Linked DNA regions of Homo sapiens: all the other regions are linked to region 1. The links come from fine-mapping of genetic effects on plasma protein levels. A gene starts in region 1. Each other region holds a variant in brackets. All regions are shown on one strand. Distances are between the middles of the regions.

Region 1 (9,651 bases):
CTGTACCGTTCAATGCAGTAGCCGCTAGCCACATGTGACTACTGAGTACTTAAAATGTGGCTAGCTGGGCCGGATGCAGTGGCTCATGACTGTAATCCCAACACTTTGGGAGGTAGAGGTGGGCAGATGGCTTGAGCCCAGGAGTTCAAGACCAGCCTGGGCAACATGGCAAAATCTCATCTCTACTAAAAATAAAAAATATTAGCCAGGTGCGGTGACATGTGCCTGTAGTCCCAGTTACCCAGGAGACAGAGATGGGAGGATCACTTAAGCCTGGGAGATTGAGGCTGCAGTGAGCCTCAGTCTCACCACTCTACTCCGGCATGGACAACAGAGTGAGACCCTGTCTCAAAAAAAAAAAAAAGAAAAGAAAAGAAATGTGGCTATTTGGATTGAGATGTGCTGTAAGTGTAAAATACACATTGGATCTTGAAGACTTCATACAAAAAAGAGTAAGATATCTCACTGATATTTTGTTATATTGATTACAAGTTGAAATGATAACATTTAGGATTTTTTTTTTTTTTTTTGAGACAGAATCTTGCTCTGTCGCCAGGCTAGAGTGCAGTGGTGGGATCTCAGCTCACTGCAACCTCTGACTCCCTGGTTCAAGTGAGTCTCCTGCCTCAGCCTCCCGAGTAGCTGGGATTACAGGCACGTGCCACCAGCTAATTTTTGTATTTTTAGTAGAGATGGGGTTTCACCATGGCCAGGATGGTCTTGATCTCCTGACCTTGTGATCCTCCCGCCTTGGCCTCCCAAAGTGCTGGGATTACAGGTGTGAGCCACCATGCCCAGCCAACACTGAGGATATATTGAATTAAATAAAATATATTATTAACATTAATTTTATCTATTTTATTTATTTATTTTGAGATGGAGTCTCACTCTGTCCCCCAGGCTGGAGTGCAGTGGTGTGATCTTGGCTCACTGCAAACTCCACCTCCCAGGTTCAAGCGATTCTCCTGCCTCAGCCTCTGGAGTAGCTGAGATTATAGGTGCCCACCACCATGCCCGGCTAATTTTTGTGTTTTTAGTAGACCAGGCTGTTAGCCAGGCTGGTCTTGAACTCCTGACCTCAGGTTGTTTGCTCACCTCGGCCTCCTAAAGTGCTGGGATTACAGGCATGAGCCGCCGTGCCCGGCCATATATTTTTTTATTTTTTATTTTTTGAGATGGAGTTCTGCTCTTGTAAGCCAGGCTGGATCTTGGCCCACTGCAACTTCCGCCTCCCGGGTTCAAGCGATTCTCCTGACTCAGCCTCCCAAGTAGCTGGGATTACAGGCATGTGCCACCACACCTAGCTAATTTTGTATATTTAGTAGAGATGGGGTTTCACCATGTTGGTCAGGCTGGTCTCAAACTCTTGACCTGAGGTAATCCACCCATCTTGGCCTCCCAAAGTGCTGGGATTACAGGCATGAGCCACCGTGCCTGGCCTGTTTCTTTTATTTTTTTAAAGATATTTTTTAGAGAGGAGGTCTTGCTAGTTTCCCAGTTTGGACTCAAACTCCTAAACTCAAGCAATCCTCCTGCCTCAGTATCCCATGTAGGTGGGACTACAGGCATATGCCATTGCACTTGGCTAAAAAAGTTTTGATTGGGCCGGGCGCGGCGGCTCACACATGCAATCCCAGCACTTTGGGAGGTGAGGCAGGTGGGATCACCTGAGGTCAGGAGTTCAAGACCAGCCTGGCCCACATGGTGAAACCCCATCTCTACTTAAAGAAATGCAAAAATTGGCCAGGCGCGGTGGCTCACGCCTGTAATCCCAGCACTTTGAGAGGCCGAGATGGGCGGATCACGAGGTCAGGAGATCGAGACCATCCTAGCTAACACGGTGAAACCCCGTCTCTACTAAAAATAGAAAAAATTAGCTGGGCGTGGTGGCGGGCGCCTGTAGTCCCAGCTACTTGGGAGGCTGAGGCAGGAGAATGGCATGAACCTGGGAGGCAGAGCGTGCAGTGAGCCGAGATCGCGCCACCGCACTCCAGCCTGGGCGACAGAGCAAGACTCCGTCTCAAAAAAAAAAAAAAAAACAAAAACAAAAATTAGTCGGGTGTGATAGCGGGTGCCTGTAATCCTAGCTACTCAGGAGGCTGAGGCAGGAGAATCACTTGAACCCGGGAGGCAGAGGTTGCAGTGAGCTGAGATCATGCCGCTGCACTCCACCCTGGGCGACAGAGTGAGACTCTGTCTCAAAAAAAAGAAAGAAAAAAAAGAAAAGTTTTGATTGCATATCCGGCTTGCATTCTGTTTCTTTTCTCTCTCTTTCTTTCCTTCCTTCCTTCCTTCCATCCTTCCTTCCTTCCTTTCTTCCTTCCTTCCTTCTTTCTTTCTTTGTTTTTTTTTTTGACAGAGTCTCACTCTGTCGCGCAGGCAGGAGTGCAGTGGCACAGTCTCGACTCACTGCAACCTCCGTCTCCTGGGTTCAGGTGATTCTCCTGCCTCAGCCTCCTGAGCAGCTGGAATTACCGGTGCACACCACTATGCCCAGCTAATTTATATATTTTTAGTAGAGATGGTGTTTCGCCATGTCGGCCAGGCTGGTCTCGAACTCCTGACCTCAAGTGATCCGCCCGCCTTGGCCTTCCAAAGTGCTGGGATTACAGGTGTGAGCCTGGTCGAGTTCTGTTTCTATTGCTGAGTGAAGAGTGTTATTTTGTGGTGACAAGGACCATTCTAAGTACTAGGTGTGTCGTTTCTTATTTAGTCCTATGAGGACTCTGAGAGGTAGCTACTATTAACCTTTCTATAGGGGAAGAAACTGAGGCACAGAGTAAATTGCCCAAGATGAACCACTAGCAAGAAGTCAGCAGGGTTGTCCATCTGCTCTGTCAATGTCGTTTAATCTTTAGGAAGAATGAAAAAACCTGATTGATTTTATCAAATGCAAGGGACTGAATGTTCATATCCTTGAAAATTCATATGTTGAAATCTAATCTCAATTCGATAGTGTTAGGAGGTGAGGCCTGACAGGTGATTAGGTCATGAGGGCAGGGCCCTCATGAAAGAGATTAGTTAGTGCCTTTATTAAAGGGACCCTCTTTGAGCCGTGTGAGGGTACAAAAAGTCAACAGTCTGCAACCCAGAAGAGGGCCCTCACCAGAACCTGACTGTGCTGGCACCCTGATCTTGAACTTTCAGCCTCCAAAACTGTGAAAAAATAATTTCTGTTGTTTATAAGTCACTCGGTCTACAGTATTTTGTTGTAGCAGCCTGAACTAGACACCAAGTTTAATTGCTGTGGGGTGAGAGTCCAAGGGAAGAAGGAAGCCAGGGAGGAAATGGGGGTTTAGGAATGATTTACATGAGGAAATCCCTGGCAGGGACCTGAGTGTTCGAGTGCACCAGCACTCAACTCTGAAGCTTCAGTTCTCTTTAGAACTCTGCATAGCAATGGGAAACTTGCCCATTCAATGGGTGCCTCGCATTTCCAGACCACACAGCTTTGAAAAAGAAAGGTTTTAGACCTTTGGAGAAGTGGACAAGCGTATGCCCTGGGGTTGGTCTAAGTTGTTAGCAGTTTCACTTAGCCGTTTCATAACCAGGCCTTGGCATAAGCCTCCCCAGGTTCAAATCTCAGTTTCCTTACTTATTAGCTGTATGACCTGGAGTAATTCAACCTCTGACTCTCAACTCTTCCAGCTGTAAAAGGGGCTAACAATGCTCATCTCCTAGGCTTGTGGTCAGTATTAAATGTCTTGTCTACAGACCTTTGCACATGCTGTTCCACACAGCTGGGAGTGGGGCGAGGCTACTCATCCTTCATGCTAACCACTTTGCTCTTTTGCGTGCACCTTTAGATTCAAGAAGGTAGACATCATGTTAGTCTTATTCATCATCCCAGCCTACGCAACAAAGCAAGACTGTGTCTTAAAAACACAAAAACAGGCTGGGCGTGGTGGCTCACACCTGTAATCCCAGCACTTTGGGAGGCTGAGGGGGGCGGATCACCTGAAGTCAGGAGTTCAAGACCAGCCTGGCCAACATGGTGAAACCCTGTCTCTACTAAAAATACAAAAATTAGCCAGGCATGGTAGTACACGCCTGTAATCCCACCAGGAGGCAGGAGATCACCTGAGATCAGGAGTTCAAGACCAGCCTGGCCAACATGGTGAAACCCCATCTCTACTAAAAATACAAAAATTAGCCAGGCATGGTGGTATGCGCCTGTAATCCCAGCAGGAGGCAGGAGAATCACTTGAACCTGGGAGGCGGAGGTTGCAGTGAGCTGAGATTGCACCACTGCACTCCAACCTGGGCGACAGATTGGGACTCCATCTCAAACAAAAACAAAAACACAAAAACTAAAACAAAATAGAGGTATGTGCAAGATGCTGGAAAACCACGCAATAGAGTGTTTGAGGAACAGTCTTTGGTCTTGAATTTATTATAGGAGAATGTGGCAGCCACAGAAGCTGCTTGGATCTGCCTTTATAAAATGACTGAACATGGTGGGAGCATTGGAACCCGGATACTTCTGCCCAAGGAGACTTCTCATTTTTTTTGTCCTGGAATTCCCTGATGGGTTGACCTGTTTGTCAGATCTGAGTCTCCTTGCCCAACCCTGCTTATTTCCCCTTCTCTGTCACGGGCATTACCCCTAGCTTTATCTCAGCATCTCATCTGCTTTCTGGAGGACCTGATCTGACCCAGAAGGCCTGGATTCTTGAGGGACAAGGGGAACTCGAAGCTGTACTTGCAGAGCAGTTTTATATAAAATCCACAAACTGCCATCACCCATCCCAACGGGTAGGGAAGTACCTCTAGGAGGATTAATTTAGAGAATAGCTATATAGTGTCTGTCTATTCAGACACTCAATAAATGGTAGTTGTTATTATTACCCAATTTCCGAGTGTGTGGGAGCACTGGGTGTGACTTTCCTGTAGTTTTCCCTTTAATGTCTAATCTGGGGACCCCTCTGCCCCATGCAGTTTTGGAAAAGTGTCTAGGGAGGGTGGCTGTGTGGAAGTAATATTAAGAGAGATGGAACCACACAGGTATTGGGTTTGGGCCAGAAAGGGTGAACTGCGAGCTGCACTGCCATTGATCCAGAGGACGACCCCAGGAAAGGTCAGCCACGGGCTCCGGGCCTTGCCTGGTACTGATTTATGGTCCTCCTGGGTGGTGACCTACAGGTGACAGACGGACAGGTGGGCAAAACTGACTGTCCAGTGGACAGGCATGTGATGACCCAGTGGCTGACGAATGCACAGACACATGGCTGACTGTGGACGGATTTGTCATCCGCAGGGTCAGGCAAGTGACTTTGAGAGGGACAGAAAGATGGATGGGAGTGGCTGGAGGCCTGGGAGCCGCCCACCTGCCCGCTTAGCCGCGAGGGGGCGCCACCGCCCCGCCCAGCGACGCCCACTGCCCGGGCTCTTGGCGGGGGCGGGACCAGCGTGCGCAGGGGGCGGGGCCAGCAAGCTCGCGGGGGTGTCCGGGGGCGGGGCGCGCGTGCACAGGGGGCGGCCGGGGGCGGGGCGCGCGGCGGGCGCGGGCGCGGGCGCGCGCGGCGGCGGCGCGTTCCGTTCCGGGCCGAGGCTCGCGGCGGAAAAGTTGCGGGGCATAGACGAGCGGCCCCGGGACGGGCAGCTAGCGCGACCCTGAGCCGGCGCCCGTGGTCCGGCCATGGACGACCTCGGTGAGTGAGCGGGAGGCCGAGGGAGGAGGAGGCGAGAGGCGCGCAGCTTGGGGCCAGGAGGGCGCCAGCGAGCGGCAGGGGCCGCGGGATCCCACCCTCGGCGGCCCCGGCCTCAGCTCCTGTCCCTGCCGGCCGGGGCTCCGCGGGGCTGGGATCCCTAACCGGGCCTTAGTCTCGGGCCAGGCCGGCCCCGGCACCGACCGCACAGCAGCGACCCCCCGTCTGGGACGGCTTCACCTCTGGACCCCCGACCTCGGGGACCCATCACCATCTCCCAGAAGGGCCCCAGGGACCAGCCCGCCCCTCAGGGACCCACCCCGTCCGCTGCAGGGACGAGACTTCCTGCGGCAGACCACCTCGTCAGCTACGGGACCCTCACCTCGCAGACCTCTCCCCACCCCCACCTCACAGATCGACCGCCCAACTCGGGGAGCAGCTGCCCGATCTCATGGGCTGCTCCCTCATTTCCTCGACCTGCTCCCCGTCCCTCCAGGGCCGCCCCCCACTTCACAGACTAGCACCCCCCTTCAGGGATAACCCCTCGGAGCCCACCCCTTTCATTTCACAAGTCAGATGCAAAAGCTAGAGATGAGCGTGTGATGACCACACCCCCATTTCAAAGACAAGTTTCCCAGTCTGCCTGCTCTTCTGACCCCCCACTTCAAATCTGGTCACCCCGTTTCAAGGACCCATCACTCATTTTCTCTCACTGACCTCCCCGCTCTGTGGACCAGCCCCTCAATTCACAGACCAGTCCGTCTACCATGGTATCTAAGTCTAGAACGGTAATTTGGGAGTCCTGATTCTCTCCCCACCCCTAGATTCTGGTGAAATGCCAGGGGAATGAGGTGGAAGGTGGGCCCCAAGGTATGACCATCCCTGAACGTGTCCTGGCTAGCAGAGTCCCCTCCACCCTCTCTGCGTCAGGCCCTGCTGGAAGCCACGCAGGTGAAAGAGGACAGGATGCCCAGAACAGAGTTTTACTGTTTTCCTGTTATTGGAGCCCCAAGGCTACTCTTTTCAGTCCAGTCTTGATCTGGTGTTAGGGGAAAGAAAGTATCTCCTGGAAGCCGACTCTAAACCCAAGGGGGTTGGTGCCAGGGTTCTAGGAATGCCTTGGGTGGCGTGAACGCAGGAGTGGGAGGATTCGCTGTCTCTCCCTCCCCTTCACGCCTGTAGCTGGAGGGCCCTGAGCTTGGGAGGTGAGGAGGGGGGCAACGTTTCTTCTCTGCAGGAGCCTTGTCTTTCCTCTCTGGACTGTGGGTGGCTTGTGTGACCACTGATGCTTCCTCTGTCCCAGGCTCTGAGGAGTAGATTCAGCAGACAGGACTGATGGACCTCTACCAAGCAGCGCCGGGCACTAAGTTAAGACTGGCTATTTGTAGGTGCTGGACTTGACTGCTTCCCTCCAGCTTCCTTTTGGGATCAGGGTGCCCCTGAGATCCTGGAGCTGGGGTTGGTGTAGGGTCCTGCCTGTTTTGCAGAGTGAGATGGCTGCCAAGCGTGGTTCTGCCTTTGGGTCAGGCTTGGCACCCATTTTTCCAGTGTGCTCAAGGTTGGCATGGCTTCCAGGCAGGTATTTTTTTTTTTCACATAAAAATAGCTCAGCTGGAAGGAGGCTGGGGGATGTTCTTTGAACCAGGATCTAAGAGTCTGAGTGCTTTCCCAGTGGGAACTGGGAGCAAAGTTACAGTTTCTAAAGTGCTGGTGCAGTTCTGTTGCTTCTCGGCAGTCCCCGTGCTGTTTCAAGGACTGAGAAAGTCTTTGTAGAGCTCGCCATCGAAATCTGGAATTCCTGTCTTCTGACAGTCTTCCATTTAGGGCCAGGAAACTGAGTTCTGAAAGGAAAGAGAGTACTGTATACGGGAGAGGGGATTGTAGGGATTTAAATTGCTGTTTGTGGAGTACTTCCCTCTACCTCGATTTGTGATATCCTCACAACAACCCTTTTATCAGATTCCACCTTAAAGCCAATGCTGTCATGACCACCTGCCTTTTTACAGATTGAGAAAGCCGAGACGAAGAGAGGCTGATTCTCTTGCCCAAGGCTGCACAGCCATGAAATGACAAAACCATAACTGGAAGCCCAATTCCTAGCTCCCAGATCTGTGGCTCTTGTATACCGAGAAGACTTTTTTTCCTGGGGAGGAGGCAAGGGCACTTGAAGGAGGGGTTGCCACTGGGTGATGGCGATCACCTGTAACTTCTACTGCTTTCTACCATAGACTCCCAGTTGCTTACATCCGGGCTGCCCGACTTCCTTGGCCTGAGCTCCCAAGGGGCAAGCCACGCCTGACTGACCGGAGCCTGGGGTGGGAGGAATGGGGTGTGCAGGAGGGGAGAGGAATTTGCCTTTGCACTGGGGCCCCGTCAGCTGTCTGGATGGCGGCTCAGCACACTGCCATCAGCTGTTTTCCTTAGGGTGGCTCAGCTGTTTTCCTTAGGGTGGACACAAAGCCCAGACCTCTTGTTTTTATTTTTCTCCTGAGCGTGCTCTCAGCCGTGTGCCTCCTGGTCCCTAACACAGGGGAGAGTTTATGGTGTGTCCGGTAGCAAGGCCAGAGGGTGCATCACCTCCTCTGTGACTTTGTTTTTTGGTCTAATAAAAAATGGGGAACTCTTCTCCTTCCCATAGTTGCCAATGACAGACTCACCATGTGCTGCTTAATAAGTTACAAATTTATAGCTCTCTGAGCAGAAAAATATCAACACAGCGTGTTCTGCCCTTCCCTGTGTGTTCTCTCCACTTTGTTCTTTGGGGTGGCTGCTTGGTGGCTTTTCTTATTACTGTTTAGATGCTGGTTTGGCCCAGAGTTCGCTCTGTTCAAGTTCTGGCCGGAGTTTCCTGGACAGAGTTCCCACAACACTGAGATGCACTCTGACTGTGTTTTCTAACCCGATTGCTTGCTCTTCCTCTGTTCATGTTCTCAGTGTACTTGGTGGGGGCTTTGACCACAACTGTGGTCTAATCATGATCATGTGCGCTTCATGGGAGACAGGCACTGTACTCAGCACTTTACGAGCTGTATCACAACCTTTCAGAAAGGGAGGTGTTTTCGCTCCACTTTATACATGTGGAAACCTGAGCTCAGGGAAGTTTAGTGGTAGTGCTGGGATTTGAACCCAGGCTCATCCAATTCCAGATCCGGTTATCTTAATCATCATAAGGTGGTAGGTGCTGGTGACTAACCAGGGGGATGAGCCTTGGGGCCTGCTGAGTAATTGATAGTTACCTTTAACAATCTCTGCCCTAGGGGCCCATCCCAGGAAATGGCAAAGGGTGTGTCCAGTGCAAGACTGGGTAGCTTTGCCTTCCCATCCTCTAGCAGGGGGAACAGCCAGCTGTTGGCAGTGCCCAGTTGCTGCTGGAATCTGGACATGTCTTCTTTCAGCTTCTCAGCAGTCTTGACCCTTTGGAAAACAGTGCCTCATTGTCCTTGGGGGTAGTGCTAGGGGGGCAGAGGAGTTGCCTGGGGCATTGGGAGCTATGGAGCCTCCCTGTTTCCATGGAAAGTCTGGACTTTGGGCTTTCCTGTCTGTGGTCCCTCTGTGTGTTAGGGCAGAGTCAGGGCACCCAGCTGCTGGGCGTGTGGCAGAGGCGGCATTTACCCATGCAGCGATAGTGCCCTCCTGGTGGGCTCTGCATCAGTGCCAGACCTTCTCCTGGGCTTGTGCTAGTAAGGGGCAGAGCTGGGATTCAAACCTTGGTGGGTTTGATTCTTCAGCGGGTACACTTTCTGATATGTGAAGCTGTCTGCTGCCTGGGCAGACATAGCTTGATGGAGAAATGCTCAGCCTACTGGAACCCAAAGCCCTGTCACTATAGGTTCAAGGTCTTTTGAGGGAATATCTCAGTATTCCTTTTTTCCAGCTTCCCTAGTGATGGTCATGCATTGAAGAGACTGGGTGTACCCTTGGCTGGAGAGGCTGATGGAAGGCCAGAGTTATTGGTGGGCCACTGAGCAGCCCTCCTCTCCTATTTAGTCATCCTGCTTGGAGT
Region 2 (9,651 bases), 40 kb after region 1:
TTAGAGGATCCGCTGAGGGGCCCCCACTCATCCGCTGGGCCTGGGATCAGGGCATCCTGGCTCCCCTCCTCCGCACTGGCTGTTTGCTCTGCTCACTGCTGCTTCCCCATCCTCCTCCTCTTCACAGCCCCTCTGTCATTCAGCCATTCATTCTAGCTGCTGGGGATATGGCATCGAACAAGACCGACAAGGCCCCTGCTCTCTGGAGCTTAATTCTTGGAGAGGAGACAGTTGACAAGAACCCAAATTGGCAGGGAAGGCCCCTCAAGGAGACTGAGTTCCTAGTCAGTGTCCAGGCCCTAGGTCCCTGGGCTGGGGGTGGGTGGGGCAGAGTGGATCTGGCCTAATTGTGGATTGGCCCTTACTGAGGACAGACGGTTATCAGGATAAATATACCCAGCTCACCATTCCTGGGGACTTACTCACCGAGTGAAAGCACCCCGCTGCGGATTAGATTACCTCTGCTCTAACTGCTCATGTGCTCTGGGCTGGGGGAGGGGAGGGGAACTTGGAGCCAGGGGGAGGGGGGAGACCCGCCTTCCCGTTCTGTTTTCCTTCCTAATCTGGAAGAGTCTCACCAAAGGGGCTGAGATGAGACCATCCCTGAGCTGGTCCTGCTGTTTACATAGCTCCTTCCTTAGGAAGGGCCAAGCCCTGCTCACTGCTTATATCCCTGAGCGTGGGCAACTGTAAGGAGGCCGCAGCTTCTCTGACACTCAGAGCTACCAAGGCTGCCCAGGTGGTCATCAGGGGGTTGGGAACCTCCCTTGTCCAGAGTTCTGGACCCAACAGGATAGACAGGCCATGAGGCTGGGCATCCCCAGACCCCCTAGGACAGGGACTTGTTTCTCTGGGAGTCTGGGTTTCCTATCAGATGGCAGGGATGGACAGCTGGCCCAGGGCTGCGGGGAAGGCCCCTGTGCTATGGCAGCCCGTTGCTGCTGGTGCTGGAGCTTTCAGGGCGGTGCTTGCTGCTCCTTCCTTTGGCTTGTCAGCTCCTAAGGAAGCTGCACTGGCCGCTCCCTGCCTGGGGCAATGAAAGCTGAGTGAAATTGGCCTGCAGAAGAAGGTGGGTGAAGGGGCTGGAAAATACCTTGTTCTTACGTGGGCCTCTCCTGGGCCAGGCCTCGAGAATGCAAGGCGTGCTAAGGTGGGGCGCTGCCTGAGGGCCACAGGACTATACCTCTTCTAGTTCTGCCTGGGGCTGCTGGTGGAGGAGTCCAGAATGGCAAAGGTGGGCAGGGACCACGGGGCCCTGGCGCTGGGGCTGGTGTGGCAGGGCAGCCTGTAAACTCCAAGAAGGGATGGAAAAGCTGGCTCCATGCCCCACATTTACCTGCTTCCTGCTGATCTGGGACTAGAGGGCAGCACCCTTTGCCCTCAGGGATTGGATAGGACGGGGAGGTGATTTCTTTCCCCTCCTAGGGCTTAACACCTCCCTGGGAAGAAGCTTGTAATCTATTTAGCAACTCCCATTTCCTGTGTGCTGTATTCCAGGCACTGTGCTAAGTCAGCACTTTATATCTTTTTCTCATGTAGTCCCAATCCTGTGAGTAAAATGGTGGAATTCCTATTGGGCAGACAAGGAAACTGAGGCACAAAAGCAGTTAAGCAGCCTATCCGAGCAGTTCAGCCATTGAGCAGAGCCCAGGTGACTGAGGATTCACCGTACAAGTTGTAACACTGAAAGTCCTCAGAGCCTGGGAGGAGAGAATGGAATCGCTCTGGGTCCTCCCACCCCCTCAGAGAGATGGACTTTTATCTCCTCTCTCTTGGCACCTGTCCAGCTCCAGGCCTCTGGTCTTGATAGTCTTTATCACACACTAAGAAGTGGCAGGGGCTTAGGTAGGAGGAAGCAGCCTGGCTTGTTTCTGTGCTGCAGTCGGGGGTGGGGGCGGAAGGTTTTAATTGATTCTCTTTAATCTGATATTGAGTGCCATGCGTCAGTGGATCAACCGGGGTCCCCAGAGCCACAGTCTGGGGGACATCCCCCCATTGTAGGTACAAGGGGACCCAGGTTTCCTTCCACCCGGAGCCCCTAGGTGGGTACAGGAATGTGAGGGATGCAGCTGCAGCACTTGCCCTGGAATGCAGGCGAACCGGTCCCCTCCTCCTCGGAGCAGTGGGCTGAGGGTGTCTGTACCTTAACCCTCCAGCGGCTCCCACCGGTTGTAAGGATTACGCTCAGTCAGTTGCTGAGGCCCAGGGAAGGGCTTCTTCCTCTCAGCCTGGCCGTAGTGCACTGTTTCTGCCCAGCCACCTGCCCCAGGGCGGCCTCCCGACCCAAAGCTGCAGCTGTTCCATGCTGTTGCTCCGACCAGGTGCAGCCATGGGGTGCAGATAGGGGCGCACACGGTGCTGCATTTGCACAGGGCCCTGGAAGCGAGGGCGTGCACCCCTCTGGTTCTCCAGAGCCCTGCATGTCACCCTTGGGTTGTGCCTTCAAGTGATACCAGGCTACCTGTGTTCCTCCCACTAGCTTGCTGTGTTCCTCCAGCTCAGCCTTGTTCTCTAAGGATAGAAACTTCCCCACTGCGCCCATGGCCAGGGGCTCCCCAGTCTTCCCCGGCTAGAAAATTGCAAGATTGCACGAGGTTACCCAGTGGCAAGAAGCTGACGGGCCAATGGTGCCCTCTGGTGGGGAGCAGCAGACAGTCTGCACCCCTTCCTCACCAGGGCGGAGCCAGGACATAGCTCCGTGGCCTTTGCCCATGGCTCGCTGGGGACTTTGCACCTAGCCTGCCCTCAGCCTCGAGACAGCCTGGCCTACCTCCTCATGTTGCATACTTCCGCTGGCCCAGAGAGACAGAAAACCTGCAGAATTCAGGGTGGGTTTCCTCCAGAAAGTGGTTGGGAAGCCCCAGAGAGAGAGCTTCCTCCTTCAGGGTGACTTGGGTCTGGAGGGCCCCAGGCCTGGACCTGGAAACTTAGTAGAGTAATGCCAAGGAAATTTGAGGCCTTTCTTAGCTTGAATGAGGTCTCCCGACTACTTCCGAGCAGCGTGTCTGGAATCTGTCCTCCCAGCATGTGGGAAGGGAGGGTGTATTCCTGGTCTTGAATGGTTTCAGTGGGTACCATTTTCTCTGAAGAGTGGATAGCCTGACACCTTCTTTGGGGTATGAGGAGCAGGAATATTTAGAGCAGAGGGAAAGGCTGGAGCCGGACACTGGGGGACCCCGCTGGGATGGGGCTCTGCCTTCAAGTGGACTCCTTCCTGTGTGCAGTGTCTGCCAGCTCTGTTTGCTCAAGCCAGGGGGGACGTTTGCTGAGCTTGCAAGGGGACTCTGACCCTTAACCATTTTGCAGCCTATGGGGAAGTCTCAGGTATTTGCACCCATTGGAAATCAAAGTAAAGCTAGGAGTCTACTGTTGGCTTGCCTCCTGTATTTCTGGTTTTCTTTCTTGAGGAGTTTGTGGGGGGTTTGGAGGCACCAACCCCTACCCCTCTTGCCTAGTCCTTGCCTGTCCAAATCACTAGGTGAGAATGAAGGGTGGAGAGAGAGGAGGAAGCCATACCAGAGACCCTGTGGCTGGTGGATGGACTTGCTGGGGTTTTTCTCTGTCCCTCAAATAGACAAAACTTTGGAGAAAACTGAATAATGATGTGCCTTCTCCCTGACATCTGCACTCTATGATTTGTTCGTTTGTTTTTAAGACAGGGTCTTGCTCTGTCACCCCGGCTAGAGTGCAGTGGTGCAATTGTAGCTCACTGTAGTCTTGACCTCCTGGGCTCAAGCAATCCTCCTGCCTCAGCCTCCTGAGTAATTGGGACTACAGGCGCATATCACCACACCCAGCTAATTTTTAAATTTTTTGTAGAGATGGGGTTTCACTGTGTTGCCCAAGCCGATCTCCAACTCCTGTTCTCAAGTGATCCTCCCACCTCAGCCTCCTGAATAGCTGGGACTATAGGCATGCGCCACCACACCCAGCTAATTTTTAAATTTTTTGTAGAGACAGGCTCTCACTGTTTTGCCCAGGCTGGGACATGCTACAATTTGAATGTTACTTTATTACTTTTCTTTTCTTTTCAAGGTTGCCCTTTTCATGGTTTGCTCATATTCTACCCAGAAAAGACTTAGGAGACTTAGAAGAAGTTAGTACTTTGCATCCTACCTACACTGCTCTCCTTGGAGGAAGACCTTATTCTGGATTTTACAGAGCAAATCAGATCTGATGTTTGTAGCTTCCAATGTGCTATGGAGCTTCCTCCTGCAGAGTGACTTGGGTCTGGAGAGCCTGATATTTGCAACTGATGTCTGCAGCTTCCAGTGTACCTGCTAGCCCTTATAAACCTCACACCAGTACTTTGAGGTCAGAGTTATTCAAGAGCTTACTGAGACAACAGGCCCTGAGAAGCTAAGCGATTTGCCCTGTGGCATGGATGGTAGAGAGGGGAGCTGGCACTTGAACTCAGGTCTGGCTCGACCTCAGAATGAGTGATCTTGTGTCTCTGTGCCCCAGGACTGCATCCTCTCACCAATACTTCACCAGCCTAGGGATCTGTGCTCCCAAGAGCCTGTTGACATTGTAAACCTGAATCCAATCCATAAACCAAAAGCCCAGGCTTAGAATCACATTGTGGTGGAGCGGGTGTTTGGTGGAGTCCCTGATTCAAAATGTTTGACAAGGAAGCCTGACCATTTGTCTTCTGTTGGGTGTTTGGAGTCCAAGAGACCTGAGATCAGAGTCCAGCATTGTCACTTCATCCAGCCTTGGCAGTGTGGGATGTGACTCTGCCTCTGAACCGCAGTTATACCATCTGTGCTGGTGGCGTTGTGAGGATGGCAGGTAACAAAGGTGAAGCTCCTGGCCCCAGTGGGCCTTCAAGGATGGCAGCTGCTCCTGCCCCCTACTGGGGTTGCACTCATTCGTTGCCTGCTCTGGGGAGTCCTATGGGGTTTCTTAGCTGGCCCTGCCCATGGTGGAGAAAGAGGGATCCACCCATTGCTGATTGGGCCCAGAGGAAATGAGGACACTGCGTGAAGCCAAGACAGCAGGTGTGGCCCTGGAGAGGCCGTGGGGATTGGCCTGGACACTGGTTCCTTTTCTGCCGTTACCTAGATACCTACCAACTCCCTCTAGTTCCGGTTTGCTAGAGACAGGAAGCCAGGCCTCCTCCATGGGACCCGGAGGGCGGGGCGGGCTGTAGGACCTGAACTTCCTTGGAGGTCAGGCGACCAGACCCGGGGTCCTGGGCCTTGGAACAGACATCCCCTCTGTCCATCTGGGCAGGAGCATGGGGTAGGTGTGGCCAGCCTTGAGGGTAGGAGATCAGGACAGGCAGCTGGGACAAGGTGTGGCCCCATAGACCGAGGCCCTGGGTGAGGGCCTTGCTTCTCTATTCCCTCCTCTGAACACAGGTTGGGGGACTGGGAGCAAGGCCACAAGGAAGGATCACACTGGCAGGCCTCACAGCTTGGGCCTCCAACATTCAGGAAGTTGAACCCTTTAAGTATGGCATCATCTGGTAGTCATAGTGGCCTCTTACAGGCCAGGTTTTTGGGGTTTGGGGCTTCTGAGGAGTCAGACAATTGTGCCACTCACTGGCTTTGTTATTTGGAGCAAACACCTCTGACCTCTGCCTCTCCAAGCCCGGCTTTCCTCATCGCTTCGGGGAGAATCATTTCCAGCTACAGGGGGTATTAGGGGGATTAACGGAGACCTCGTACATGCTGCTAGAATGCCTAGCAGTCTGCCTGCTACTGATAAGTGGCAATAAACGCAGCCATTGCTTTTTAGATGTTTATTATCCTGAGGGCTAGGGATCAAGCTGTCAGCTCCCTGGACCCAGCAGGTTACCGGGGAGCTGAGAGCAAGCAAGTTGTGAACGGGGCAGGAATGAGGGTGTGGCATCCAGGGCCAGGCTGTCTGAGCCGTGGGGCTGTTGAGGGTCCCAGGAGGGGATGGAGGAAGTGGGGGTCAGCAGGTCCTACTCCTGCCCTTCTATACCCTTCTTTTCTGGAGACTGGGGAGACCTAGTGCCCCCCTGTTGGCTGCCAGGTGCCAGGGTAATGGAAGCTTACACTAGAGGGCTGATTTGGCTCCCTTGCCGCTGTTAAAAGCAGAACAGTGGGGGCCTGGAGCCTCTGGGGCCGGGCTGCTTGCCAGACTTCCGCAGAAACAGCCAATGGAGCAGTCTTGCCCCCTGCTCACTGAGGGGGTGGGGACCGCTGCACCAGCCTCACTCCAGCCCCCACCTCCCCGCACACCTTACCCCATAAGCCTAGAGCCTCAGGAGGAACCTGGAGCCTGGGCTTCTGCTTCCACCTGGTTAGGAGGGCAGGGACCATCCTGAGTGCCCCTTCCAGTCGGGGGCTGGGAAAGCCTAAGCTCTTAGAAATCAAGTGAGGGCCTGGCATAGCCAGGGCCCCTCCCTGTGACGTGGGGCCCCTCCCGCCCATTCTCTCCGCGTTGCCCTGCAGATTCAGAGTTCCAGACAGGCACTTCACTCGCGGCTGCGCGGCCCTGTCAGGAGGGAACGCAGTGCCAGGTGCCTGACTCCCAGAGGTAGGAGATCCCACAGGGCAGCCCCAGAGCCCGCCTCTAGAGCACTTTCAGTCCTGGGTGGCCAGAAGAAGTTAGCTTTGGGAGCCGGCTCTTGGTTAGGCTGGTCGGGGCTGGTGGCTTCCTGTCCCAAGGCTGGTCATTTCTCCCATGGGTGGGGCAGGTGCTAGAAGGCATTAACTCTTGAGGTGCAGGCAGGGAGGGCCCTGCCACGGGAGAGTCCCCAGGATCCCGGTTCTCACCTGCTACCCGTGCCTTCTCTTTGCAGACGCCCTGCTGGCGGACTTGGAGTCTACCACCTCCCACATCTCCAAACGGCCTGTGTTCTTGTCGGAGGAGACCCCCTACTCATACCCAACTGGAAACCACACATACCAGGAGATTGCCGTGCCACCCCCCGTCCCCCCACCCCCGTCCAGCGAGGCCCTCAATGGCACAATCCTTGACCCCTTAGACCAGTGGCAGCCCAGC[A/G]GCTCCCGATTCATCCACCAGCAGGTGAGGCGGGGACAGTGGCTGGGAAGGCCAAGGAGGCTGGGGGACAGAGGGAACTTAGCTGGCAGGGGCTTAGGGAGCCAGGGGATGGAATGGAATTGGGGCAGTCGACCCTTCCCAACCAGACACTGCTCTTCCCACTCACCACGTGAGTGGAACAGTGACCAAGTGGTTAATCACAGGTTTCCTGGCCCAACTGTGGAAATTCCCTGGTGAGACTGGCTGTGGGCAGGAGCCTCCTGGGGGTGACTGGAGCTGCTCCTGGCCCCTGTTCCTTTTTCTCCCCTCGGGGTAGCCTCTGAGCATTCTCCTTCTCGCAGCCTCAGTCCTCATCACCTGTGTACGGCTCCAGTGCCAAAACTTCCAGTGTCTCCAACCCTCAGGACAGTGTTGGCTCTCCGTGCTCCCGAGTGGGTGAGGAGGAGCACGTCTACAGGTACTGCCCCAGTCTGCCCAGGGCACCTTCCCTCCTGCTTAGAAATCTCAGGGACCTGGCCAGGGTGGGAGGCAGCGGAGGCCCGGGAGCAGGCATAGCAACTGGGCCTTGTGGGGTTATTCTGGTTTAAGCTGCAGAAGGCCTGTCGGTGGGCCCGTCTACCTCATCAGTGCCATCTCCATGCAGTGGACATTCTGGGCTATCACAGCATCTCCGTGTAGCTGAGGAACTGAAGCAAGACTTCATTCCTCCCCTCTTCTTTTTTTCTTTTTTTTTGAGACGGGGTCTCGCTCTGTCACTCTGTCGCCCAGGCTGGAGTGCAGTCGCGCGATCTCGGCTCACTGCAAGCTCCGCCTCCTGGGTTCACGCCATTCTCCTGCCTCAGCCTCCCAAGTAGCTGGGACTACAGGCACCCACCACCACGCCTGGCTAATTTTTAGTAGAGACGGGGTTTCACCGTGTTAGCCAGGATGGTCTCAATCTCCTGACCTCATGATCTGCCCGCCTCAGCCTCCCAAAGTGCTGGGATTACAGGCGTGAGCCACTGTGCCCGGCCTCCTCCCCTCTTCTTACCACATCCCTTCCCTACCCTCTGTCCTCTTGCGGGGGAAGACTTCGCATCTCCTCTGCCTTGTTCTCCTTGGGAATCTGGGAACTGCCAAGCCAGTACAAGGCCAGAAAGCATCTCTCACTATCTTCTTTCCTTTGCCTCTCAAAGCTTCCCCAACAAGCAGAAATCAGCTGAGCCTTCACCCACCGTAATGAGCACGTCCCTGGGCAGCAACCTTTCTGAACTCGACCGCCTGCTGCTGGAACTGAACGCTGTACAGCATAACCCGCCAGGCTTCCCTGCAGGTAGGACCGGGTCCCTGGGGCAGGGTCTACCAGGGCCCAGGGCCCATCTGCTGACCTCTAGATCCCAGGAGGGCTCAAGGGCTGAGCAGCCTTTTTCTCTCCTCTCTGCAAGATGAGGCCAACTCAAGCCCCCCGCTTCCTGGGGCCCTGAGCCCCCTCTATGGTGTCCCAGAGACTAACAGCCCCTTGGGAGGCAAAGCTGGGCCCCTGACGAAAGAGAAGCCTAAGCGGAATGGGGGCCGGGGCCTGGAGGACGTGCGGCCCAGTGTGGAGAGTCTCTTGGATGAACTGGAGAGCTCCGTGCCCAGCCCCGTGTGAGTACCCACTGGGCCCTCCCCAGGTGGGGAAGGGCTGGCCCAGCCTGCCCCGGGTCCAGTGTCTGTCCCCTTAGCCCTGGTATCACCCACTCCCTCCCGTGTCTGCCATTTGCCAGGCACTGGGGGGATAGTGGTGAGTCACATGGACACCATCCCTGCCTTCAGCCAGTCACTGCCAGTCAGAAAGGACAGACGTTGTGCAGGCTGAGGGCGCCTGGAGCTTAGCAGCTCTTAGCACAGGCTTTGGGGCCACACAGTGGGGTTCACATCTTGGCTCTGACAGTTACTGTCAGCTCTCAAGCCTTAGTTTTCCCATCTGTAAAATGGGACAAGAACTTATGGGATCACTGGGATAAGACCACCTACCTCAGTAAGGGTGAGAACCAGTAATCCATGTAAAGCGCTTGGAATGGTTTCTGGTGTGTAGTGCGTGGCACACATGGTGAGTGCCCAACACGCGAGCTCTTACCAGTGCCGTCGTGTTACTGCAGTAGCCTCACCTCCATGTCCAGTGTTGTGGAGGAAACACAGGGCGCTTGGGCTTGTTTCGCAGGCCAGCTTTCACTTGGGCTGGGGGCTAGAGGAGTCTTCCTGGCACTTCCTGGTGCCATTGAACTGCCCTTTCTTCTGACCCAGTGATGGGTCCCCAGGAGAGACAGGGAGCTGGTGGACCTCCCTGGGGTTGGGGATGGTGAGACCCCAGTGTCCGAGGTGAGAGGTCGATCTGATCCCCGGGAAGTGTGGGGCTGACTGTGGGCTCCCCACTGATGCTGTGCCCACCCTGCAGCCCTGCCATCACTGTGAACCAGGGCGAGATGAGCAGCCCGCAGCGCGTCACCTCCACCCAACAGCAGACACGCATCTCGGCCTCCTCTGCCACCAGGGAGCTGGACGAGCTGATGGCTTCGCTGTCGGATTTCAAGGTGCCCTGTGAACCCTCCATCTTCCCTGCCCTGCCGCCCCTCCCTCATCCTTCTCCTCCCTTACCTCAGTGTGGGTAGCTGGATCTTGGCATCTCAGTGTTTGGGTGCCTTGCCCCTGAGC
Region 3 (9,651 bases), 130 kb after region 1:
GTGCACCACCACACGTAGCTAATTTTTGCATTTTTAGTAGAGGTGAGGTCTCACTATGTTGCCCAGGCTGGTCTCAAACTCCTGGCCTCAAGTGATTCTCTTGCCTCCACCTCCCAAAGTGTTGGGATTACAGGCGTGAGCCACTGTGCGCGGCCCCTCTCTACTTTTTAATTTTTTTAAAATTTTTAGTTTAAGACAATCTCACTCTGCTGCCCAGGCAGGAGTACAGGGGCACCATCTCTTTTGGCTACAGCCTCTGCTTCCTGGGTTCAAGCGATTCTTGTGCCTCAGCCTCCTGTGTAGCTGGGATTACAGGTGTGCACCACCACACCCAGCTAATTTTTGTATTTTTAGTAGAGATAGGGTTTTGCCATGTTGACCAGGCTGGTCTCGAACTCCTGGCCTCAAGTCATCCGCCCACCTTGGCCTCCCAAAGTGCTGGGATTACAGGTGTGAGCCACCGTGCCCGGCCCCTTCTCTCCTTTTTTTTATTTCACAGTAAAGAGTTAAGTTAAAAGACAAGTCAGGCAAAGAGAGTTAGGGTGGCCTAGCTGGGTCAGAGTCCCCTGCCTGTGCTTCTTGTCTGCTTCTGCTCCTTCTTTGCCTTTCCTGCATCTGGTACAGTTGTAGCTTGCCATTGCAGGTGCTGTATTTCTCTGAATCCCTCGTGCCCACGGCAAGGAAGGCTTTGTGTGACCCACTGGAGGAGGTCAGAGAGGCGGCAGCCAAGACTTTCGAGCAGCTGCATTCCACCATCGGCCACCAGGCTCTGGAGGACATTCTCCCATTTTTACTAAAGCAGCTGGTGAGTGGATCTACCACACACCTACCTACCAGTTTGGCTTTTGCCGTCTTTGTAGATGGAAAATACAGGGCGATTATTCTGCCAAGGCAGTCGCAATGTGGGCCCTCCAGAGGGAGTGGGTATAGCAAGATCAGACTTGGCTTTGTGCTTCGCCTTCGGCAGTGAGGAAATGTGGGTGCAACAGGAGGGAGGGAAACAAGTGGAGAAGGAAGTTGGCGGTGGCTGGTTGAGACAGCAGAGATGCAGATTCCTCAGGGTTGTCCCCAACACCCTCTGCAGGATGACGAGGAGGTGTCAGAGTTTGCCTTGGATGGTCTGAAGCAAGTCATGGCTATTAAGAGTCGTGTGGTGCTGCCCTACCTTGTGCCCAAGGTAAATCCCAACATGTGGTCAACACCCTCTGGCTCCAGGGCATTGACATTTCCAGGGCCTGCAGTGAAGACCAGTTCTGAACGTAGATGTTGGAGGGCTGGGGGAGGAGGGTGCAGTGCAAGCATTACATCCTTCCCCTGTTGTCTTCCAAGATATGCTGGAGTAGATGCTTGGCTCTGAGCAGTGGGCTTGGGCTCTCTTGCCCACCCGTCTGTTCCCAGAGCCTAGCGCAGCACCTGGCACAGTATTCACTGAGTTAATGTTTGTCATTCCACCAGCTGACAACGCCACCTGTCAACACCCGGGTGCTGGCTTTCCTTTCGTCAGTGGCTGGTGATGCCCTCACCCGTCATCTTGGCGTGATCCTCCCAGCGGTCATGCTGGCCCTGAAGGAAAAGCTTGGGACCCCAGATGAGCAGCTGGTAAGGGGCGAGCCTGCTCCTGCTTTCTCATGTCCCGTCTGCCCGGAGGATCCCTGCTCAGCACACATGTCCCTTGTGGTTTGCAGGAGATGGCCAATTGTCAGGCTGTGATCCTCTCCGTAGAGGATGACACAGGGCACCGGATCATCATCGAG[G/T]ATCTGCTGGAGGCCACCCGCAGCCCTGAGGTGGGCATGAGGCAAGCTGCTGCCATCATCCTCAACATCTACTGTTCCCGCTCAAAGGCTGACTACACCAGCCACCTGCGGAGCCTGGTCTCGGGCCTGATCCGCCTCTTCAATGACTCCAGCCCTGTGGTTCTGGAGGAGAGCTGGGATGCCCTAAATGCCATCACTAAGGTGAGGGGACTGCTGACCCCACAGCCAACTTTTGCTTTTAGAAAATTCCAGACATTTACAGGAATAGACTTATAAGAATCCCCCACGTACCTGTCACTCAGCTTCGGCGTTTACCCACTCGTGGCAAGTCTTGTTTATACTCCCGCCCACGCTTTCCCCATATATTCTTTGGAAGCAGTCTTGAGAGGGCTGTACATCCTCTCGCTTTTTCCTGGATTCCTGCAGAAGCTGGATGCTGGCAACCAGTTGGCACTCATTGAAGAGCTGCACAAGGAAATCCGGCTCATAGGGAACGAGAGCAAAGGCGAGCATGTGCCAGGATTCTGCCTCCCGAAGAAGGTAAGCCAGGGCCTCGTGCAGGGGGCTGTGGGCGTGCAGTCTGTTGTGCCCTTCTGGCCCTTACCCCTGTCCCAGGTCTGCGGTAGGGGCTGCTGGAGCAGTAGCCGTGGTGGTTGGTGTTCAGCACCTTCGCAGACAGCATGTTTTCTTCCATGGCAGTCAGATGGGGACAGGGTTCATGCTGCCTTTGGTTTAAGCTCTGCAGGTCACCTTGGCCAGAGTGAGTGGGCCACAGGGTAACAGCAGTGCATGTTCTCTCTGTGTGATAGGCCTGTTGGGGCCCTTGTCGTCTTTTCTCTGCCAAGACCGTTCCATAGCCAGCCCTCTCAGGCTGTGATCCTGAGATTCAGCCCAAATCAATATCTCCCATGGAGTTGAGGGGAGGACAGCTGTCAGGACCACTTTGCTTGCATGGGAGACACCAGGGCCCAGGGTGTTTGAGATTTGACTCTCAGTTGTGGTTCTCTTGTCAGGGAGTGACCTCCATCCTTCCAGTGTTGCGGGAAGGAGTCCTGACTGGCAGCCCTGAGCAGAAGGAGGAGGCAGCCAAAGCCTTAGGCTTGGTAATCCGCCTGACCTCGGCTGACGCCCTGAGGCCCTCCGTGGTCAGCATCACTGGCCCTCTGATCCGCATCCTGGGGGACAGGTTCAGCTGGAATGTGAAGGCGGCTCTGCTCGAGACACTCAGCCTCTTGTTGGCTAAGGTGAGTGGCTGATGAGTTTGTTCAGATCTTAGAGAACAGGTCTGTCTGCAGGAGCCTGATACAAGGTGTCATGTAGCAGCAGGGCAACAGATTTATTGTGGAGAGCCGCATAGCAGAGGGAGGTAAGACCTTGGACTTCAGACATGCTACACCATGGGTCAATTCCAAGTCGTCCTTACTAGCTCTGTGACCAGGATGACCTTGGGAAAGCCATATAACCTAAGCCTGTTTCCTCACCTACAATGTGAGACTAATAATACCAGCTGCCTCATGAAGGGCTGCTAGATATGGGGATTAGATGAGGTTATGTCCAGCATGATGCCTGCTACATACTAAGCACTCAGTACATGTGAAATGCTATTATTTTGAAAAACTACTTTTTCAAAGGAAAAAATTCAGGACCACGTAAATACAAGGAAAACATTGTTTAAAGATATTGCAGTTTTTGTTTTTTTTTGTTTTTTGTTTTGTTTTGTTTTGTTTTTGAGACAGAGTCTAACTCTGTCACCCAGAGCTGGAGTGCAGTGGCGCGATCTCGGCTCACTGCAACCTCCGCCTCCTGGGTTCAAGCAATTCTTCTGCCTCAGCCTCCCAAGTAGCTGGGATTACAGGTGTCTGCCACTACACCTGGCTAATTTTTTTGTATTTTTAGTAGAGACAGGGTTTCACCAGGCTGGTCTCGAACTCCTGACCTCGCACAGCTCAGATTTACCAGCTCCCCCTATCCCCTTTGTGTGCCTGCCACAGCCTGCACACCCACCCAACTCCAGTATTTCCAGACCTTCATTGGCACTGAACCTCCAAACAGTCACTCTGGTTTTCCTAATTAACAATAAGTAAGCCGGGCGTGGTGGCTCAAGCCTGTAATCCCAGCACTTTGGGAGGCCGAGGTGGGCAGATTACCTGAGGTCGGGAGTTCGAGACCAGCCTGACCAACATGGAGAAACCCTGTCTCTACTGAAAATACAAAATTAGCCGGGCATTGTGGCGGGTGCCTGTAATCCCAGCTACTCAGGAGGCTGAGGCAGGAGAATTGCTTAAACCCGGGAGGCGGAGGTTGCAGTGAGCTGAGATCGCGCCTTGCACTCCAGCCTGGGCAACAAGAGCGAAACTCCGTCTCAAAAAAAAAACAAAACAAAAAACAGTAAGTAAATCTTTACTCTTGGACCCACCTGTATTGTATCAAAAGTGTGCCTGTGTTTCTGTATAGTCAGGGGTTGAACTGGATTTTTAGTTAGGTGGGTACACATTTGTGCAGGGAGGATTCTCCAAGGTCATTTGTTTCACAGGCTTGTTCTGAGGGCTGAATGTGGAGTGCGTATCCTGCTGTCAGTTGCTCAGTAGATGGGCTCTGCAATTATACACTGAGTCCCTTTCCCTGTCTTGGCATTAGAACTGTGCTTCAGTACTGCCGATAGTCTGCCCTGCTTGTTAATGTATTCAGAGGAGGATTTGAGTCACTTATCGATATGGACAGGTCTCCACTAAGCCAAACCCCAACGCAGCCAAGGCTGCGAGACAGCTCCCTCAGATAGCGGCCGCCGCCTCCTCGGCCTCCTGCTCCTCCAGTGTATCAAAGCATGCTGGATATGACCAGGAGGCCAAGCGAAACCTGTCTGTGTTTGGCCTCTCTGACGGGCTATCTGTCCCCAGCCCTGTATGAGAGCTGGACTCGCTGTGGTGGTTTGGGATTGTCATTTGTTCTCATGCCTGTGGTACACTGTGGCTTTGGGTCTACCACAACTGTCTTTCATGGATGTGGGTTCCTCCCACAGGTTGGGATTGCCCTGAAGCCCTTCCTGCCCCAGCTGCAGACCACTTTCACCAAAGCCCTGCAGGACTCCAACCGGGGGGTGCGCCTGAAGGCCGCAGATGCTCTGGGGAAGCTCATTTCCATCCACATTAAGGTGGACCCCCTCTTCACAGAGCTGCTCAATGGCATCCGCGCCATGGAGGACCCAGGTGTCAGGTACGGCGCTGGCAAGGGAGCACTGTGGCCTCCAGGAGGCCAGGGGTTGCTGTGGGCCGAGCCTGCGCTGGCAGGAGGGGTGGTGGTGGAGGCACCCAGGGCTTAAGGCGGTGCATTGCTTCTGCAGGGACACCATGCTGCAGGCCCTGAGGTTTGTGATTCAGGGAGCAGGGGCCAAAGTGGATGCCGTCATCCGGAAAAACATCGTCTCACTCCTGCTGAGCATGCTGGGACACGATGAGGTACGGCTGCAGGCAGGACTAGTGGCAGCACTGGACCACTGGTTTCCCTCCTCCTCCTTAGGTTGAGTTCTTCACTTTGTGTTAGAACCAGTACAGCTCAGTAGTAATAAGCATTCCTGACATTTCTATCACCCTGTATGCTTCACCAACATTTCCTCGGGTTTCAAGGGAAACGGGGCAGGTATTGTGGATATATTGGTTATTTCCGTTTGTTTGTTTGTTTTTTGGCTGAGTCTTGCTGTGTCACCCAGGCCGGAGTGAAGTGGCACAATCTCGGCTCACTGCAGCCTCCGCCTCCTATCAAGCGATTCTCCTGCCTCGGTCTCCCGAGTAGCTGGGATTACAGGTGTCCGCCACCATACCCAGCTAATACTTGTACTTTTAGTAGAGATAGGGTTTCACCATGTTGGTCAGTCTGGTCTCAAACTCCTGACCTCAGGTGATCCACCCGCCTCGGGCTCCGAAAGTGCTGGGATTAACAGGCATGAGCCACCGCGCCCGGCCGGTTATTTCTATTTTATAGATGAGGCAAGTAAGCTTTGTAGAGACCCAGACCTCTCACCTATTTGCTCTCTGATCTTAAAGAAGTCACTTTCTCTGTCTGCCTCTCATTTCCACTTTTGTAAAATGAAGAGGTTTATTTATTGTTTTGTGAAACATTTGCCGAGCTAAAGGGCCTATCCCAGAGGTGCATAGACCTCGTGGTCACAGACCTCAAGAAACTTAGTGTGTAGTGGGATAAATGGTCTCCAGGGTGTGTCCCGGTGGCAAGTCTTAGAGGTCTATTTTCGAGGGTGAGACTTGTCTGGGCCATACCCAGCAAGTAGTAGAGTCCAAACCAGAAGCCCTGGACTCCTGGTTCTGTCCCAGTTCCATCAGCCTCACCTAGTCTGGAAGCATCTGTCAAATATTTGGCTGCGAGCACTGTGGGGCCAGTAGGGAGTTGAGTCTATGGAGAAGAGTTTTCTGTTCCCTTTTCAGACAGCCCTCTGTTGTGGTCTAATTTACTTTGTAGGGCCAATCTAGGAGGAGAGGGCCTTTGGGCTCACATGGTTTTACACGTCATTGACACACACACACACCCACACACACTCCTCCTGCCCACACCTGCAACACACACACTTGCTGCTGCACTTCCCATGGCTCCAAAGGCCTAGTTCTGGTCCCCAGGCGCCAGCTGTCGGACTCCAGCCCCAGCCTTCTCTGTGGGGACAGACAGGAAAGTCTGCTGTCTTGGTCACAGTCTTTCAGGGCTTCTACAGAGTCATGTGTACAGTGCAAGCAAAAGTTAGTATTGAAACATATTTGCATTTTACCACAGTGCAGCTTAAAATAGATGAAGTTGGAGAGAGTCGGTGTCAGAGCCAGCTTTAGCTTGGCACCTGGGCTTCTGCTTCGAGCTCAGAGGCCCAAACTGCTGGCAGTCCATTCTCTTACCCTCTGAACCTCCACTCAGATTGAAGGTGGCAGTTCAGGGTGCCAGCCTGGCATTAGCTTTTTGGGTTATTGAGTCCCTGGTTGGTGGTTTGTTTTGGGGACATGTTGAGTTGGCACCTGTAATAAGGAACATAACTTAAAATCCTCTCTTGGTATTCCATAGTTAGCTGGCCAGGGAGGAGCACGGAGCCGCTCGCGTACCTGGCTCTGATTTGAACAGGAAGTGCTTGCCTTTCCTTATCTTCCTTGGCTTGATTAGTGGCTTTAGTTTGACTTCCTAGGATGAACCCAAGTAATTTCGGTGGCAGTGGGGCACTCATGCAGTAGGGAGATAGCAGGAGTCATTCTGGCCACAAGATGACACAAACTCTGTGGGAGAAAGGAGCTCAGAGTGGCCGTCTCTAGCCGGCTTCCCTGGTGGCTGGGGGCAGGTGCCTCCCCTCCTGCCCCTCCCGCCCCTCCCTGCCTCACAGGGCTGTTGATAGTAATTGAGATAATAAATATGAAACATTCAGCCTTCCTAAGAAGAAAGATGCTATGTAAATACAGTTATTACTGCTATTACAAGGATGATTACCATATGCATACACACTGGGGTTTTCTATAATTAAGTGAAGTGCTGGCTGTGTAATGTTTAACTCCATACCAGTGGCAGCCCAATCTGGCAGGGGAGCACGAGTGCCTACAGGAAGGACTGGATCTTGAGTCTCTGAGTTGGCTTTTCCACCTTCTTTGTTGCTGTCCATCCTGGGCTCTAGAGCTGCCTGCCTTGGTTCCCACACAGCTGGTGTTGTTCCCTGCACCCCCTCACTCCCTTCTCTTCCCTGTCAGGACAACACTCGCATCTCCTCAGCCGGGTGCCTAGGGGAACTGTGTGCCTTTTTGACTGAAGAGGAGCTTAGTGCCGTTCTACAGCAGTGCTTGCTGGGTAAGTACACTGGAGAGTTCCCCTTCAGGGACCTGGGCCTCTCAGCCCTAGCGAAGAGTCGACGGGCATCTCCCTCCCTCCCTCAGAGGATCTTTTAGCAACTGGACTGTCCTTTCCTTGGGAATCCAGCAGTTAAAGCAAAATCCAGGCCAGGGGTGGTGGCACTCACCTGTAGTCCCAGCTACTCAGGAGGCTGAGGTGGGAGGATCAGTTGAGCCCAAGAGTTGAAGGTTGCAGTGAGCCTTGATCACGCCCCTGCACTCTAGCCTGGGCGACAGAGCGAGGCCCTGTCTCTAAAACAAACAAACAATACTGAATTTGCAGTGGTCCCGTAGCCCTGAGTGTCTCTGCTCAAAGAACACAGCTGTAAGCCCGGAGTGGTTCATGAGCAGGCTTTCCTTACTTTCCTTAATGTGCCACTTTGGGGAGCTTCTGCCAAGATAGCAGGGAGGTCCATGTGAATGTGGCCTGGAGTTTTCCTTGTGCTCTGGGTCAGCACACTGGTCTCCAGCGGGGTGGGCCCATGGGCCTCATGGGTGCTGGGGACATGCTGTAAAATACCGGTTGATCCCAGTCGTGTCCTTCCACCCAGCGGACGTGTCCGGCATTGACTGGATGGTTCGGCACGGGCGGAGCCTGGCACTTTCCGTGGCTGTGAATGTGGCTCCTGGCAGACTTTGTGCCGGCAGATATAGCAGTGATGTTCAGGAAATGATCCTGAGCAGTGCCACGGCGGACAGGGTAAGGCATTCGGGCCATATCCCATAGGCATAGGCCACATCCCATAGGCAGCACCTTGTGGACACAGCGCGGGTGGACCCCAGACTGGGGCTTAAGAAGCTTGGGTCTAATTTTACCTTTGTCAGTAACTTGCTGTGCCCTTGGACCAGCACTTGATCCCTTTGGGCCCCAGTTTCATCATCTAAACAAGGAATTTGGGTTGAAGAATCTAGATGCCCCTTCTGGGTCAGGTCTTGGATCCCTGTTCCTGGGAACCAGTGACTGTACTCATCTGCCTCAGCCGGGGCAGCCTGCCTGAGAGCTGTCATGGTGTAAGGGGTGATGTGGTGGTGATGTAGTGGAGGGTCCTGGAGATTACTAGGAACTGGGGTTTTCCTGGCTCTGGGGAAGGGGTGGGGGGCCTCCCGTCTAGCGCTGTCTGTTCTCCACAGATCCCCATTGCGGTGAGCGGGGTCCGGGGCATGGGCTTTCTCATGAGACACCACATCGAGACAGGCGGAGGGCAGTTGCCGGCCAAACTTTCCAGCCTGTTCGTTAAGGTGAGTGGGGGCCAAGCATGTGTTTAAGCCCTAACACCTGGCTTGTGAGGAGGTCCTAGGATCAGAGACCACCAGCAGTGCGCCCTCAACTAGTTGTGTGCTAGTTCTCCGTGGACGGCCTCCAGGAGATCGCTGAACACTTAGGGATGGAATGTAGGGGGTTTCTGTGTGTGCTTTACACTGCAATAAAGCCTAACTTTTTGTCAGATTCTCAAATTGACCCGTGACTCTGAATCAAGTTAGGAATCGCTATTTTAGGCATTCTTTCTAGGCACCGTAGTTTTGTAAAATTAGATACAGACCTGGGTTCCCATCTTAATACCTCTCTTTTCCCTCCTTCCTCTTCTAGTTGGCCCAGCACTTCTTGGTGTGGTTACTGTGCTATGTGCCAGGCCCTAGTTAGGAAAGCCAAGGAATGTGCCAGCAGGGCTCCTGTGGCCCGTGTGATATGGCGTGCTTCTGAAGCATTACTGTGCACAGAAGTCAGAGCCAGGGTGTATTTTAGTGAGATGGGGCCATGCCTGGTACTCTAACCAGCTCTCAGCAACAGTGTCAGTGGTGCTGTGCATGGACCTTGCCTTGAGTAATGAGGTTCCCAAGAGTGACTGCCTCCCCCCGCAGCACCGGGAACCCACGGAGTTTCTGAGGGGCCTGATTCGATTGAGCCTCGTCTGTGATGACATCAGCCTGCACCCGCTTGTTCACTTGGCATTATCCTGAAGGTGTAGAGATGAACAAGGCAGACAGGATCCCTGGAGCCCATGGGGAGGACCCTGATATAGATAAGATTGGCAGGG

Alleles and levels. Positions count from the first base shown, and alleles are read on the strand shown. Strength reflects both the effect of a copy and how common the allele is.
For the plasma level of the protein whose gene starts at base 5,538 in region 1, allele A in region 2 goes with a lower level than allele G (strong association).
For the plasma level of the protein whose gene starts at base 5,538 in region 1, T is the low allele of the variant in region 3 and G is the other (strong association).

What was found. PIP is the chance, under the fine-mapping model, that this variant and not a neighbour inherited with it causes the effect. Protein levels are from antibody-based Olink assays in UK Biobank. Linkage for the fine-mapping came from a reference panel and not from the study's own genotypes, which makes the PIPs less certain.
Region 2: its variant is fine-mapped to the plasma level of the PXN protein (UK Biobank, PIP above 0.99). The variant lies in the coding sequence of PXN. If it changes the protein, the assay may bind it differently, which can mimic a change of level.
Region 3: its variant is fine-mapped to the plasma level of the PXN protein (UK Biobank, PIP above 0.99).

What each region holds. Positions count from the first base shown.
Region 1 is chr12:120,261,617-120,271,267 of GRCh38, reverse strand. PXN (paxillin) reads left to right here and starts at 5,538. Exons shown (of 15, transcript NM_001385981.1): 1 at 5,538-5,651. The coding sequence starts at 5,639. RefSeq lists silencers at 5,231-5,510, 5,671-5,820.
Region 2 is chr12:120,221,502-120,231,152 of GRCh38, reverse strand. It overlaps PXN (paxillin), which reads left to right. Exons shown (of 15, transcript NM_001385981.1): 2 at 6,776-7,002; 3 at 7,320-7,435; 4 at 8,154-8,290; 5 at 8,403-8,604; 6 at 9,395-9,530. LOC124903034 (a long non-coding RNA gene) reads right to left here. Exons shown (of 3, transcript XR_007063487.1): 2 at 6,750-9,651; 3 at 5,732-6,673. Among named protein-coding and RNA genes, the nearest start is that of PXN-AS1, 25 kb to the right of the region's middle. RefSeq lists enhancers at 1,142-1,701, 2,770-2,859, 4,053-4,733, 4,750-4,799, 5,417-6,098 and 2 more and silencers at 1,013-1,307, 2,550-2,659, 5,613-5,907, 6,216-6,265. The variant A/G (reference allele first, on the strand shown) is at 6,979.
Region 3 is chr12:120,129,849-120,139,499 of GRCh38, reverse strand. It overlaps GCN1 (GCN1 activator of EIF2AK4), which reads left to right. Exons shown (of 58, transcript NM_006836.2): 46 at 644-805; 47 at 1,085-1,177; 48 at 1,456-1,599; 49 at 1,686-1,955; 50 at 2,181-2,294; 51 at 2,768-2,998; 52 at 4,774-4,967; 53 at 5,095-5,209; 54 at 7,478-7,574; 55 at 8,167-8,315; 56 at 8,747-8,854. Among named protein-coding and RNA genes, the nearest start is that of RAB35-AS1, 18 kb to the right of the region's middle. RefSeq lists enhancers at 6,193-6,392, 6,603-6,652. The variant G/T (reference allele first, on the strand shown) is at 1,755.